2 separate regions of the Homo sapiens genome follow, and region 2 is linked to region 1. The links come from fine-mapping of genetic effects on gene expression. Tissue or cell type: neutrophils. Region 1 holds a variant in brackets; the other region holds the start of a gene. All regions are shown on one strand. Distances are from middle to middle.

Region 1 (8,103 bases):
ATTGGGTCACGTAATATCATTATGTTTATCAGAGTGAAATCTAGTTTAGCCTTTTGCGTACTCAATAAAAACCATCGTGAATTTTAGAAAAACTGCTCAGAGTTCATATTTGAGCAGTTGCGTATTGGCAGCAGCATCTTGATATAAAAGACAACTTGTTATTTTTACGCATTCTGGAATTGTGAAACTTAGAAAGCACATTATGTTTTTTTTTTTAAAGATTATGTTTGTTTAGTGCTTTATATCTATTATAATCCTTATGAAAGCCCCGTGAAGCAAGTGTGTAAGAACTGGCATTTTAGGCTGGGCACGGTGGCTCATGCCTGTAATCCCAGCACTTTGGGAGGCCAAGGTGGGCAGATCACTTGAGGTCAGGAGTTCAAGAGCAGCCTGGCCTACATGGTGAAACCCCGTCTCTACTAAAAATACAAAAATTAGCCGGGCATGGTGGCAGGTGCCTGTAATCCCAGCTACTGGGGAGGCTGAGGCCAGAGAATCACTTGAACCTGGAGGGTGGAGGTTGCAGTGAGCCGAGATCTTGCCACTGCACTCCAGCCTGGGTCACAGAGCGAGACTCCATCTCAAAAAAACCCAAAAATAATAAAAATAAAAATAAAATTTTAAAAAATAAAAAAATTAAAAATAAATAAAGATGAAGAAACCAAAGCCACGGGGCCTAAGTGGTGTGACCAGGGTCACTGGACTCATTGGTGGCTGCATTGGTCAGGGTCTTGGCAAGAAACAGAGGGCACACTCCAGTTGGGTAATTTCAGCAGAACCTAATAAAGGAACTCTTTACAAAAATAGGGGCAGGGTGCAGGGAAGCCACAGGGACAGTGTGTTGTTGTGGGGAGCTACATAGGCTTGCCATGGAGGGAGGAAGGAGGGCCAGGTCACCAGAACTGGAGAGGCCTGCAGTGTCAGTGCACAGAGACCTCCTAGGTCTAAGAACTCAGGATAATTAACACCCAACCCCTCTGTCCTCCCTCCTTCTGATCCCCTAAAGGAGACCCTCGTTGGCCTTATTGGAAGCCAGAGGGCAAGGGAGCCTGCTGAGGTTTCTACACAGGTCAGTCTCCTGGGCACTGAAGAGAGAGAGTAGGGAGTGGCTCCCGGATGGAGTAGGCAACAGAAGATATCCAGCACAGAGGTGAATCCATGAGTAAACCTCAGACTTCCTTTAAAAAAATAATAGTAGGGCCGGGCGTGGTGGCTCATGCCTGTAATCCCAGCACTTTGGGAGGCCGAGGCAGGTGGATCACCTGAGGTCAGGAGTTCGAGGCCAGCCTGGCCAACGTATAGTGAAACCCCGTCTCTACTAAAAAATACAAAAATTAGCTGGGCATGGTGGTGCACGCCTGTAGTCCCAGCTACTTGGGAAACCAAGGCTGGAGAATCACTTGAACCCGGGAGGCAGAGGTTACAGTGAGCTGAGATCATACCACTTTACCCCATCCTGGGCGACAGAGTGAGACTCTAACAAAGCAAAACAAAACAAAATAAAAAATAATAGGTCAGGCATGGTGGCTCATGCCTGTAATCTCAACAATTTGAAAGGCCGAGGCAGGCGGATCACTTGAGGCCAGGTGTTCGAGACCAGCCTAGGCAACATAGCGAAAGCTCGACTCTACTAAAAATACAAAAATTAGCCAGGCATGGTGGCACATGCATGTCATCCTAGCTACTTGGGAGGCTGAGGCACAAGAATCACTTGAACCCGGGGATAGAGGCTGCAGTGAGCCAAGATCATGCTACTGCACTCCAGCATGGGTGACAGAGGAAGACTCGGTCTCAAAATAATAATAATAATATGATAATAATGAATAGATAATTATGTGAGGTGATGAATATGTTAATGGTCTTGATTGTGATTGTTTCATAATGTATACCTATATCAAAACATTAAGTTGGACCAGCATGATGGTTGATGCCTGCAATCCCAGCACTTTTCAAGGCTGAGGTGGGAGGATCACTTGAGCCTAGGATTTCGAGACCAGCCTGGGCAACATAGTAAGACCTCATCTCTACAAAAAATCAAAAAATAGCCAGGTGTGGGGCATGCACCTATAGTCCCAGCTACTTGGGAGGCTGAGGCAGGAGGATCACTTGAGCCTGGGAGGTGGAGTTTGCAGTGTAACCGAGATTGTGCCACTGCAGTCAGCCTGGGCAGCAGAGAGAGGCCCTGTCTCTAAAAAAATGAAAAACAGGGGCTGGGCACAGTGGCTTATGCCTGTAATCCCAGCACTTTGGGAGGCAGAGGTGGGTGGATCACCTGAGGTCAGGAGTTTGAGACCAACCTGGCCAATGTGGTGAAACCCCATCTCTACTAAAAATACAAAAATTAGCCGGGTGTGGTGGCAGGCGCCTGTAATCCCAGCTATTCGGGAGGCTGAGGCACAAGAATTGGTGGAATCCGGGAGGCAGACGTTGCAGTGAGCCAAGATCGCGCCATTGCACTCCAGCCTGGGCAACAAGAGCAAAACTCTGTCTCAAAACAAAATAAAAGAAAAAAAAAAAAAACAACCCCACCCCCTCCAAAAAAAAAAAACCGTTAAGTTGTACACCTTAAATATGTACAGTTGTTATTTGCCAGTTATACTGAAATAAAGCTGAAAAAAAAAACTGATCTCGGACTTCTTGTCCCTTGATCCTATGCTCTTTCCATAACACTGTGCCTGAGACACATAACACTGTGCCTGAGTCCTAGCTCCTAGCACAGAATTTCAGAGAAGTTCCCTTCAGGACCACCCTTTGGCCCACAACATCCCTCAACATTAAACTTTAAGCTCGTTTTCTAAAGCGTTCTGTGAATATTAGCCTCTATGGAAGGATCCCATAGGATCCTTTTTTGACAGCGATCCCATGGGAGCTATAAATCAGACTGGGTCAGGCAGTGGCCTGTGGGCTAGGCCAAGATGGCAGGGCTGGCAGGTTGAGAAAGGTCCCCTGAAGTCATCACTGGTTCTTGGCCATCATCACATCTTGGCAGAGATCCTCAGAGCCTTTAATGCAGCTGTAGTGGGCATTAGCCACGAGGCTGGCAAAGTTTCAAGAATAAAAGAATCCATTTTACTATCTTTTGCATCTGGCAATTAAAGGACCTTGAACAAAAGACTTCATCTCACAGCACTGTTGATAACTCTACGGTTTGCACTTGGCTACCCTGGCTTTATTTTTATATAATCCCTCTGGCATGAGACTCCAGGTTTTATAGAAAGTAAACATCTCGGGGGTGTTGGAGCTTTCTACCTTGGATGCGTTCTTTATTCACCTTTATCCTTGGTTCTCTGAGGGCTAAAGTCATAAAAAGTTTGATGACAGTGACCTCTTCCAAACCCAAGAGCTATGAGAGCAGTGTACTGAGAAATGCAAAGCCCAATGTTCTCATGGAACACAAACTCACCCAGAGGTCACAGAGAAAAAATTCTCAGTTCCTGTTCTGGCAGAATCATTTCCAAAGAAATGAAACCATGGTCACATCCAGCTTTTATGGTCTGAGTGGTCATATTCCTGAAAGAAGCATAACTACTAGAATCTAAGGTGACTTCACTACAAGGTTAATACATTCACTCCCCCAACTCCTCACCCAAATAAGGCCTTATGCACTGTGCATTTTCCCCCACTGCTGGGGGAGGTTTTTCTAAATTTCACTCATAAGCAGTTTACCTGGTACCACTGGAATTGATCAAAGAGGCACAGAGTTGGCCGGGCGTGGTGGCTCACGCCTGTAATCCCA[G/A]CACTTTGGGAGGCCGAGGTGGGCGGATCACGAGGTCGAGAGATCGAGACCATCCTGGCCAACATGGTGAAGTGCTGTAATCCCAGCACTTTGGGAGGCCGAGGTGGGTGGATCACCTGAGGTCAGGAGTTTGAGACAAGACCAACCTAGAGAAACCCTGTCTCTACTAAAAATACAAAATTAGCCATGCATGGTGACACATGCTTGTAATCCCAGCTACTCGGGAGGCTGAGGCAGGAGAATCGCTTGAACCCGGGAGGCGGAGGTTGCAGTGAGCCGAGATCACACCACTGCACTCTAGCCTGGCGATAGAGCAAGACTTCATCTAAAAAATAAAATAAAATAAAATAAAATAAAATAAAATAAAATAAAATAAAATAAAATAAAATGGCCTGGCGCGGTGGCTCACGCCTGTAATCCCAGCACCCTGGGAAGCCGAGGTGGGCGGATCACAAGGTCAGGAGATCGAGACCATCCTGGTAACATGGGGAAACCCTGTCTCTACTAAAAATACAAAAAAGTTAGCCGAGCGTGGCGGCGGGCGCCTGTAGTCCCAGCTGCTTCGGAGGCTGAGGCAGGAGAATGGGGTGAACCCGGGAGGCGGAGCTTGCAGTGAGCCGAGATCCTGCTACTGCCCTCCAGCCTGGGCTACAGTGCGAGACTCCGTCTCAAAAATAAATAAATAAATAAATAAATAAATAAATAAATAAATAAATAAAATAAAATAAAGAAAATGGCTCTAGCACAGTGGCCCTATTGCCATTCCTGCCTCAGGAATTTTGCACTTGCTGATTCCTCTGTTTGGACCACTCTTCCCCCAGATTGCCGTATATGGCTCACTCCCTCACCTCCTTCAGATCTTTATTCATATGCTGCTTTCTCAGTGAGACTTTCCCTGGCCACCCTGGATGCCCTGTTTAACATTGATGCTTCACTCCGGTACCCCATCCCTCTTCCCTGATTTATTCATTTTTTTCCTGTAACACTTAAACCATCTAACCTACTCCCTTCCCTATTATTTTATTTACTTATTTCACTGTGGTAAAATATACACCACACAAAAATTACCATTTTAATAGTTTGTAAGTTTTCAGTTCGGTGGCATTAATTACATTCACATTGTTGTGCAACCATCACCACTATCCATCTCCAGACCTTTTGCATCTTCCTCAACTGTTGAAGCTCTATACTCTTTGAACGCTACCTCCCCATTCCCCACTCCCCCCAGCCCTTGGTAACCACCATTCTACTTTCTGTCTCTATGAATTTGACTACACTAGGTGCCTCATGTAACTGTAACACTAGGATCTTTCTCTCTCTCTCTTTTTTTTTTTTTTTTTTTGAGATGGATTCTTGCTCTGTCGCCCAGGTTGGAGTGCAGTGGTGCGATCTTGGGTCACTGCAACCTCCGCCTCTTGGGTTCAAGCGATTCTCCTGCCTCAGCCTCCCAAGTAGCTGGTATCACAGGCACCTGCCACCACACCTTGCTAATTTTTGTAGAGACGAGGTTTCACCATGTTAGCCAGGCTGGTCTCGAACTCCTGACCTCAGGCGATCTGCCCGCCTCAGCCTCCCAAAGTGCTGGGATTACAGGCATGAGCCACTGCGCCCGGCCAGCCACCAAGCCTGGCCAATCTTTGTCCTTTTATGTCTGGTTTATTTCACTTAGCACAGTGTCTTTGAGGGTTTATCCATGTGGTAGCTTGTGTCAGAATTTCATTCCTTTTTTTTTTTTTTTTTTTAAGGTGGAGTCTCACTCTGTCACCCATTCTGGAATGCAGTAGCGCAATCTCTCGGCTCACTGCAACCTCCGCCTCCCAGGTTCAAGCAATTGTCCTTTCTCAGCCTCCTGAGTAGCTGGGACTACAGGTGCATGCTACCACACGTGGCTAATTTTTGTATTTTTAGTACAGACAGGGTTTCACTATGTTGACCAGGCTGGTCTTGAACTCCTGACCTCAGGTGATCCACCCGCCTCAGCCTCCCAAAGTGCTGGGATTACAGGCATGAGTCACCATGTCCAGCCAGAATTCTGTTCCTTTTTTAAGATTGACTAGCCAGGCGTGGTGGCTCACGCCTGTAATCTCAGCACTTTGGGAGGCCCAGGCGGGTGGATCACCTGAGGTCAGGAGTTTGAACCACCCTGACTAACATGGTGAAACCCCACCTCTACTAAAAATACAAAATTAGCTGGGCGTGGTGGTGCACGCCTGTAATCCCAGCTACTCTGGAGGCTAAGACAGGAGAATTGCTTGAACCTGGGAGCCGGAGGTTGCAGTGAGCCGAGATTGCGCCATTGCACTCCAGCCTGGGCAACAAGAGCAAAACCCCATCTCAAAAAAAAAAAAAAAAAAAAAAAGACTGAATAATATTGCATGGTCTGTATATGCCATAGTTTGTTTATCCATTCATCTGTCAAAGGACATTTGAGTTGCTTCCACTTTTTGGCTATTGTGAATAATACTGCTATGAACATGAGTATACAAATATCTCTTTGAGTCCCTGCTTTCAATTCTTTTTTTTTTGAGATGGAATCTCGCTCTGTTGTCCAGGCTGGAGTGCCGGGGTAAGATCTCAGCTCACTGCAACCTCCGCCTCCCAGGTTCAAGCGATTCTCCTGCCTCAGCCTCCCAAGTAGCTGGGACTACAGGCGTGCGCCACCACGCTCAGCTAATTTTTGTATTTTTAGTAGAGATGGGGTTTCACCATGTTGGTCAGGCTGGTCTTGAACTCCGGACCTCCTGATCCGCCCGCCGCGGACTCCCAAAGTGCTGGGATTACAAGTATGAGCCACTGCACCCGGCCAATTCTTTTGTGTATATACCCAGAAGTGGAATTGGTGGATCAAGTGGTAATTTTATGTTTAATTTTTTGAGGAACCACCATACTGCTTTCCATAATGGCTGCATCATTTTACATTCCCACCAGCCTATCTAACCTACTTTTACTTATATATTTTGTTTAGTGCCTGTCCCCTACCCTTCTTTGAATGTAAGCTCCATGAGGCTAGTAGAGATGTGTTTCCTGAGTATCTAGATCCTTGTTTGGCACATGGTAGTCAGTGTTTGTTAAATAAATGAACTGATTCAGTGCCTCTGACTTCATTTGCATTATTTTGATCCCCATTCAAGGGCTGGCTTAATCCCAGTGGAGCCCTTTTTGGTCCATCTCCCCAGCAGGCTCTTTCCCAACTAGGTGTATGCCTCTTGCAACTCATCCTCACTTTCTGCTTGTATTCTAGTTGTCTGTGAGAGTGCCCTATCTTTCCCTCTGAATTATAATATCCTTAATGTTAGGGAGCTTGGTTTTTTGGCCTTTTCTTATCTTTGTTTTGCCATCTTTCTAGCTCAGGGGCAGAGACTCAATACATTTGTATCAGAAGGACACTCTAAATGTCCAGGCTGAGCAGTGCCACTGTCAAGGATAGGCTTGAGCAGTCCAGAGCTGAGACCAGGCCTCCAAAGAAACTGGCTGTGTCGCTATGGCACGTGCCTCTCTCTCTGAGTCTGGTCCTCTTTTGTCTGATGAGGGGATTAGACCAGTGACCTCTCAGGTTCCTCTTAGATATTACATGTGCTGTGGGACCGAGTGTTTTGCAGGAAGAGTATGGTCTTCATCTGTGAGAGCCCATAGTCTGATAGAGATAAAATAAACATGTAAAGAGCGGTTAGGGAATCAAGAGGAAAGCTGTGCCAGGGCAGTCCTTGCCTGGAGGGATGGGCGCCACATCACCCATCTCCCTCTCTCAGCCCCGCTCCCCACTGCTGGAGCTTCAGAGCACAAAAAATCCGGGAAGCTCCGAGAGGACTTCATGGACATCCCATCCTTGTTGAGAGAGAGAGAAAAAAAATCTTTACAAGCTCACATGATTTCATTTGGTTATTTTAAACTGTTTATCTTTCTGTCCTTTCCCCACGGAATTAACGTTTGCAGGCAAAAAAATCAACTTTGAGAAGTTTTCCTCCTTTGCTCAGCTATTTGTGTATAAATATTCCGTGAGTAAAGTCTCTAAAAGACTGCCAAGCCCCCCACCCACCCTGTTCCCATTCCCTAGTAGTTGCTGACTAAGAAAGACTTAATGAGCTTACATCCAAGAGTGGAATGTTTCAATGACTCTTAAAGCCCTCTATGTATTTTTAAAAATCATTTTATCCCTGGTGGTCTACTGGTTAGGATAAAAAAAAAAGGCTTTTCAAATGCATAAACAGTGCAGTAACAATATTCACAGATTATTTAAACAAATCACTCATAATCTAACAGCCCTCACACTACTCTTTATTTTTACCAATTGCCTTCCAGTTTTACCCATATGAACACGTAATTGACACTGTGATTATCAAGCTGTACATACAATCTTGTATTTTACG
Region 2 (8,103 bases), 51 kb before region 1:
CAGAAAAACTGAGCAGAAAGTACAGAGAATTCCAGGCTGGGAGTAATGGCTCAAGCCTTTAATCCCAGCACTGTCGGAGGCCAAGGAGGGAGGATCACTTGAGCTCAGGAGTTTGAGACCAGGCTGGGCAAGATGGTGAAACCCCGTCTCTACAAAAAATAAAAAAAATTAGCCAGGCACAGTGGTGCACGCCTGTAGTCCAGCTACTTGGGAGGCTGAGGTTGAAGGATCACTTGAGCCCAGAAGGACAAGGCTGCAGTGAGTCAAGATTGTGACACTGCCCCTCCAGCCTAGGCGACAGAGGGAGACTCTGTCTCAAAAAAAAGAAAAGAAAAAAAAAAAAAGAAGAAGAAGAAAGTACCGAGAGTTCCCATATCCCCCTTCAGGCTCCCCATTTTTCCTATTATTAACTTTTTGCATTAGTGTGGTACATTTGTTACAACTGATGAGCCAGTATTGGTATATTATTAACATAGCCCAGCCGGGCGCGGTGGCTCATGCCTGTAATCTCAGCACTTTGGGAGGCCGAGGCGGGTGGATCGCCTGAGGTCAGGAGTTCAAGACCAGCCTGGTCAACATAGTGAAAACCCATCTCTACTAAAAATACAAAAAATTAGCTGGGCGTGGAAGCGGGTGCCTGTAATCCCAGCTACTCAGGAGGCTGAGGCAGGAGAATCGCTTGAAACTGGGAGGCAGAGGTTGCAGTGAGCCGAGATCGCATCATTGCACTCCAGCCTGGGCAACAAGGGGGAAACTCCGTCTCAAAAAACAAACAAACAAAAAAACATAGTCCATATTGATACATTATAATTAACTAAGTCCATAAGTTACATTAGGCTTTACTCTTTTCCACACACAAGTATGACATGTATCCACCATGACACTATTACATCATACAAAATAGTTTCACTTCTGTAAAACTCCCCTGTGCTCCACCTACCATCCCTTCCTCCCCCCAACTCCACTTCCCTGGCAGTCACTGATCTTTTTATTATCTCCATAGTTTAGCCTTTTCAGAATATCATACAGTTGGGGCCAAACGCACTGCCTCATGCCTGTAATCCCAGCACTTTGGAAGGCTGAGCAGGAGGATTGCTTGAGACCAGAAGTTTAAGACCATCTTGGGCAACATAGCAAGACCTTGACTCAAAAAAATACATATATATATGTCATATGGATGGAATCATAGTTTGTAGTCTTTCCACATTGATTTCTTTCGCTTAGCAATATGAATTTAAGGTTCCTCCATGTTTTCTAATGGCTTGATAGCTTTTTTTTTTTTTCCTTGAGATGGATCCCATTATGTTGCCCCGGCTAGTCTTAAACTCCTGAACTAAAGTGATTGTCTTGCTTCAGCCTCCAGAAAAGCTGGGAATAGCTGAGACTACAGAAACATGCCATTTTTTTTCCTTTGTAGTAGAAGTTAGAAAGCTTTTTTTTTTTTTTGAGATGGAGTCTTGCTCTTTCACCCTGGCTGGAGTACAGTGGCGCAATCTGGGATCACTGCAACCTCTGCCTCCCGGGTTCAACCGATTCTCCTGCCTCAGCCTCCCCAGTAGGTGGGATTACAGGCACGTGCCACCACACCCGGCTAATTTTTGTATTTTTAGTAAAGACGGGGTTTCACCGTATTGGTCAAGCTGGTCTCGAACTCCTGACTTTGTGATCCACCTGCCTCAGCCTCCCAAAGTGCTGGGATTACAGGTGTGAGCCACCGTGCCCGGCCTTTTTTTTTTTTTTTTTTTTTTGAGACAGAGTCTTACTCTGTCACCCAGGCTGGAGTGCAGTGGTTCGATCTTGGATCACTGCAACCTCCACCTCCCGGGTACAAGTGATTCTCCTGTCTCAGCCTTCTGAGTAGCTGGGATTATAGACGCCTGCCACCACACCCGGCTCATTTTTTTTGTATTTTTAGTAGAGACGGGGTTTTACCATGTTGGCGAGGCTGATTTCAAATTGCTGACCTTAAGTGATCCAACCGCCTCGGCCTCCCAAAGTGCTGGAATTACAGGCGTGAGCCACCGCGCCTGGCCTCAAAAAAAAAAATTTTTTTTTTCAGGACGGCGTCTTGCTCTGTCGCCCAGGCTGGAGGGCAGTGGTGCGATCTCGGCTCACTGCAAGCTCTACCTCCTGGGTTCACGCCATTCTCCTGCCTCAGCCTCTCGAGTAGCTGGGACTGCAGGCGCCTGCCACCACGCCCGGATAATTTTTTGTATTTTTAGTAGAGACGGGGTTTCACCGTGTTAGCCAGGATGGTCTCGATCTCCTGACCTCGTGATCCACTCGCCTCGTCCTCCCAAAGTGCTGGGATTACAGGCGTGAGCCACCGCGCCCGGCCAAAAAAATTTCTAATACGGCAAATATTGAAAGATATAATCCACATAAACAAAGCTTTTAGGGTCTTCTATAATTTCTAACACTGTAAATGGTTCCCAAGACCCAACTGTTTGAGAACCGCTTCTCTGGGATGCCTTCTTCTTTTCCTGCTGGCTAATCCCAGTGGAGAGATTTAGGTATTTAATTCTGCTCCAGACTCACCTCTGAGAACCTTCCCTGATGGGCCACACTCTACTCACTGCCCTTGCTCTGTATCCCCTCTTCAGTTATGTTGTTCCTGTTTCCCTGGCTGCTTTTAATTTTCTTTCTTTCTTTTCTTCCCGCCTTTTCTTTTCTTTCTCTTTCTTTTTCGTTTTTTGTTTTTTGAGACGGAGTCTCACTCTGTCGCCCAGGCTGGAGTGCAGTAGCGCGATCTTGGCTCACTGCAACCTCCGCCTCCTAGGTTCAAGCGATTCTCCTGCCTCAGCCTCCCGAGTAGCTGGGATTACAGGCGCACGCCACCATGCCCGGATTATTTTTGTATTTTTAGTACAGACGGGGTTTCACCATGTTGGCCAGGCTGGTCTTTAACTCCTGACTTCAAGTGATCCGCCCGCCTTGGCCTCTCAAAGTGCTGGGATTACAGGCTTGCTGCCGCACCCGGCTTGTTTTTTTTTTTTTTTTTTTTTGAGACGGGGTCTCACTGTGTCCCCCAGGCTGGAGTGCAGTGGTGCGATCACAGCTCCCTGCAGCCTCGAACTACTGGGCTCAAGCGAACCTCCCACCTCAGCCTCCCGAGTAGCTGAAACCACAGGAGCGCGCCACGACACACAGCTAACTTTTTTTTTAGTGTTTTTTCTTTTTTTGTTGTTGCCTTTTTTTTTTTTCTTTATCGATCCTCCCGCATTGGCCTTCCAAACTGTTGGGATTACAAGCGAGAGCAGTGCCCGGCCCCTACTGCTTTGAAACCTCGGTTCTTTGCAGGTCCTGGAAAAGAAAGTGAAGGGGTCGTGCAATGGCTCAAAACCCAGGCAACATTTCCAGGCGCGTCCTCAACTCGGCGTCACTCTGACAAAAAGTTTGCCCTTTGCGCCCGATCCCTCACACCAGAGAGCACCGCAGGGACGCAGGGACGGAGAGGACTAATGGGGTCGGGGAGGACCCAAGGAAGTTGGGGAACTCAGACTCTTTTCAGTGTTTAAAAAGCAGAGGCCCCCTCGGAAGGCATAACAGGCGAGTCTAACAATGCCCCTGGAGATCAACGGCACTAAGGGGTACCTTTGCCCCGCTCCAAGGCTCCTTGTTCCGCCCCCTGCCGCCAAGCAAGGAATCCGGCGCCGCCGGTCGTGGGTAGTATTTACGACAGTGCTGGCGCTTTGCGGCCGGCCGCACAGCCGCTGACGCGTCGGGAGGCGGAGCCTAGGGAAGCAAATTCTCCTGGCGGCCTCCGTTCAGACGCGGCAGCTGTGACCCACCTGCCTCCTCCGCAGAGCAATGGCGGTGTCTGCCGGGTCCGCGCGGACCTCGCCCAGCTCAGGTAGGCTTAGGACCCCGCCCTCCGGCGGAGAGTTCCTAGGAGCGCTGGTCTCAGAGGGGCGGGGGCGGGAGGACGCCCAGTGTCTCCCGGTGAGGCGGGGGGGGGGTCCTCTGTGGGGAAGGGGGCGTGCTGTGAGACATTTGCAGCCTGCGGCTTCTGAATGATGATGACATTCGGGAACACTGCGGTTAGGGGACTGTAGTCTGAGGGGTTCTGGGACATTAGGGGATCGTGGAGAGGGGGCTGCACTGCAGGGATGTTTCCTATAGTCAGATCATTGAGGCAACCTCATTGAGCCGACCCGGGTGGGCGGAAGCTCTGAGCTGTTGGTGCAGTGATTTCTTTGATTTGAGGTGGAGCCCACCCCCGCACACATATTTTCTCCATTTATTGATTGCAGATAAAGTACAGAAAGACAAGGCTGAACTGATCTCAGGGCCCAGGCAGGACAGCCGAATAGGGAAACTCTTGGGTTTTGAGTGGACAGATTTGTCCAGTTGGCGGAGGCTGGTGACCCTGCTGAATCGACCAACGGACCCTGCAAGCTTAGCTGTCTTTCGTTTTCTTTTTGGTGAGTCCAGTTTATGGGTGGGAGCAATTTGGTTGAGAGTGGAGAATGACAATCTCTATTTTTTGGTTGCAAGTAGACTTAGCTCCCTTTTCCTCAGAGCTGAAGACATTGGTATAAAAGAAGAGGTCTTTGCGAAGTTTAGGATTAAACCTGCTTTGTCTCCTACAGTTAGGATTTACTTGGTGGCCAGAAATGCTTTTTTTTTTTTCCTTAGACGGACTTTCGCTCTTGTTGCCCAAGCTGGAGTGCAATGGCGCTATCTCGGCTCACTGTAACCTCCGCCACCCGGGTTAAAGCGATTCTCCTCCCTCAGTCTCCCGAGTAGCTGGGATTACAGGCGCCCACCACCACACCCGGCTAATTTTTTATTTTTTTTGTATGTGTGTTTTTAGTAGAGACGGGGTTTCACCATGTTGGCCAGGCTGGTCTCAAACTCCTGACCTCAGGTGATCCGCCTGCCTCGGCCTCCCAAAGTGCTGGGATTACAGGTGTGAGCCACCGTACCCAGCTAGAAATGCTATATGATATGTAGAGGCGAGGCAGCAGTGACCCATTTTGCTTGTGGCATGAAGTTGCCCAGAAGACTCAGAGAAACAGAGCAGGGGGCCACAGGGACCATACCTTTTGGCTGTGACTCCCTAATCAAGAGCTTCTTAACTGAGGCCGCAGCATGGTGTGCTTGGAATGGTTTACAGATGTGCAGAGATATTAGTCCCCTTAGCCCAGTAGTTCTCAACTGGAGGGAGTTTTGCTCCCTGGGAGACATTTGGCAATGTTTAGAGACATTTTTAGTTGTCACAACTTGGGGGAGGAAGAATAGGTGGCTGCTGGCATCTCTATAGAGGTCAGGGAGTGCTCCTAAATGTCCTGTAGTGCATTGGATAATCCCCTCAATAAATAATTAACCAGCCCAAAATGTGACTAGTCCTGAAGTTGAGAAACCCTGCTTTATCTCAAGCTGGCTTCCTGATCTGAGTAGCCTCTTCTGTTTATTCCCAGGGTGTTGACGAAATGCAACTGTTTTTGGAGTGTGCCAGGAAGCAGAAAAGGTTGAGAAGCACTCCCAGAGCACTTTCTTTCTTTCTTTCTTTCTTTTTTTGAGACGGAGTTTCGATCTTGTTGCCCAGGCTGGAGTGCAATGGTGTGATCTCGGCTCACTGCAACCTCCGCCTCCCAGGTTCAAGTGATTCTCCTGCTTCAGCTTCCCGAGTAGCTGGGATTACAGGCATGCGCCACCACACCTGGCTAATTTTTTTGTATTTTAAGTAGAGACGGGGTTTTTCCATGTTGGTCAGGCTGGTTTCGAACTCCCAACCTCAGGTGATCTGCCCACCTCAGCCTCCTAAAGTGCTGGGATTACAGGCGTGAGCCACCGTGCCTGGCCTCCCAGAGCACTTTCTGAAGCTCAATAGGATGGATCTTTATAGCTGTCAAGACCCTAACAGTTTTTATAGCATTTTGTGCATTTCTGTAATTTAATCCTCTCTGTAGTCCTGTGATGTATTCCCCTTCTCACAAATGGGGAATTGGTTAACCGAGCTGCAGGGGCTGTTCTAGATGGCACAACAGATGTAGTACTGTGCAGAGTAGGCACTCAATAATTAATACTGAATAAATGGCAGAGCCAAGATTAGAAAAGAAGTCTGACCCTGGAGCTGCACACTGTCAACTGTGTTCCACTGTATTCTACTGCTTCCTTAGCTGAGGCCCAATGACCAACTCCCCTATTGCCTTCTTAGGGTTCTTGATGGTGCTAGACATTCCCCAGGAGCGGGGGCTCAGCTCTCTGGACCGGAAATACCTTGATGGGCTGGATGTGTGCCGCTTCCCCTTGCTGGATGCCCTACGCCCACTGCCACTTGACTGGATGTATCTTGTCTACACCATCATGTTTCTGGGTGAGGGGAACTGTGGGAAATATTGACTGGCCTGCCAGAAACACAGAAATAGAAGCATGCTGGTGAATGGTCAAAGTCTTTGGCACCTTATTTCACTTCTGCTGTGATCAATTTCATGCTGTTGACCTGTGTGTCACTTAAGCTGTGATCCCATAATTCTTTTTAAAATATTAAAATAACATTTAATTTTCATTTAGTTTTATGTGATTATACAATGCTTGATTTTTCTTAATTCCAACCATATCCTGGTCCAGGGAAACTGGGCCTGTGGTGATCTCTTGACCTCTTAATCCTCTCCCTACAAATCCCAGGGGCACTGGGCATGATGCTGGGCCTGTGCTACCGGATAAGCTGTGTGTTATTCCTGCTGCCATACTGGTATGTGTTTCTCCTGGACAAGACATCATGGAACAACCACTCCTATCTGTATGGGTTGTTGGCCTTTCAGCTAACATTCATGGATGCAAACCACTACTGGTATGAGTCAGGGGGGACAAAGGGGAGGGGTTGGCTGGGTCAGGATGGTTATCAGAGATAGGGGCCCAGTGAGGTTCTGGAATTTTTCAGTCATGTTTGCAAAGTATGGTTACAAGGTCACTTTGATCTAGGTGGATTTGGGAGGGGAAAGGGCCAACTAGTTGGAGCGCTTGGGATGACACAAAGCAAAATGGCTCCATCCCACCCCTTCAGTCTTTCCCTATCTCCCCAGGTGCCTTGATTTATTCACCTCTTGTAACCCTCTTAGAGAGAAAAACAGAATACTAAAGCCAGACATGGCTGTTTTCAGATACTTTAAGGGTGGTTATGTAGAAGAGGGAGCAGACTTTCTCTGTGTGAGTCCAGAAGGGCAGAGTTAGAGCCAAAAGTAGAAGTTGCTGTGAGGCAGAGATCATGTCAGGAGAAGAGGGCCCACCAGGGCTGCTCAGCATTGCTGTTCTCGGAGGAGGTAACCCTTCCCCATTTCTGGCTTAGGTGACTGTCTCTAAGGGGAGGTGGAGAAGGGATTTGGAGATAAGGTGGTGGGGCAGTTGACCTTAAGGATTCTTTATATGTTGAGTGAAAAGTAATAAAATAGGTGTCAATAACATGAGTATGGGGAAAAAAACTCAAACATTGAATTCATTAACAGTCATTAAGTTTTATTTATTTTTCTTTTTATTTATTTATTTTTAAATAGAGATGGGGTCTCGCTTTGTTGCCCAGGCTGGTCTTGAACTTCTGGGCTCAAGCAGTCCTCCCACCTCGGCCTCCCAAAGTGCTGGGATTACAGGCATGAGCCACTGTGTCCGGCCTATTTGTTAATACACACATACAAAACCCCTTTGGTAAAACTTGAAACTCATTCAGAATGGCCAGCTCTGATCATAGAGAATTAAGAGGCAGTTTTGATAGAATATCTCTGAAAAGTTCCGTTGTGGGGATATTTGTTGAGATGGCATCTCACTGTGTCGCCCAGGCTAGAGTGCAGTGGCGTGATCATAGCTCACTGCAGCCTCAACCTTCTTGTGTTTAGGTGATCCTTCCATCTCAGCCTCCTGAGTAGCTGGAACAACAGGTGTGTGCCACCACACTCAGCTAATTTTTAAAATTTTTTGTAGAGATGGGATCTCACTATGTTGCTCAGGCTAGTCAGAAGTTCCATTTTTATGACTTTATGCATTTTGAAAAAATCACTTATCATTTATTCAGGGTTTTCCACATCGCAGGCACTATACTAAATATTTAGAGTTTTTCCTCATTAAAACCCTGTAAGGTCGATGGTGCTGTTCACATTTTATGTT

Which allele goes with the higher level. Alleles are on the strand shown, and positions count from the first base shown. SD is a standard deviation of normalised expression in the study named.
In carriers of allele G in region 1, the expression in neutrophils of the gene that starts at base 3,746 in region 2 tends to be lower than with A alone (moderate effect, 0.66 SD a copy in BLUEPRINT).

What was found. PIP is the estimated chance that this variant, and not a neighbour inherited with it, causes the effect.
Region 2: GGCX starts here. The variant in region 1 is fine-mapped to the expression of GGCX in neutrophils (BLUEPRINT, PIP 0.91).

What each region holds. Positions count from the first base shown.
Region 1 is chr2:85,506,508-85,514,610 of GRCh38, reverse strand. No RefSeq gene overlaps it. Among named protein-coding and RNA genes, the nearest start is that of PARTICL, 28 kb to the left of the region's middle. RefSeq lists a silencer at 1,084-1,263. The variant G/A (reference allele first, on the strand shown) is at 3,737.
Region 2 is chr2:85,557,136-85,565,238 of GRCh38, reverse strand. It overlaps GGCX (gamma-glutamyl carboxylase), which reads left to right and starts at 3,746. Exons shown (of 15, transcript NM_000821.7): 1 at 3,746-3,853; 2 at 4,254-4,424; 3 at 6,164-6,322; 4 at 6,634-6,799. The coding sequence starts at 3,811. RefSeq lists an enhancer at 3,543-3,772.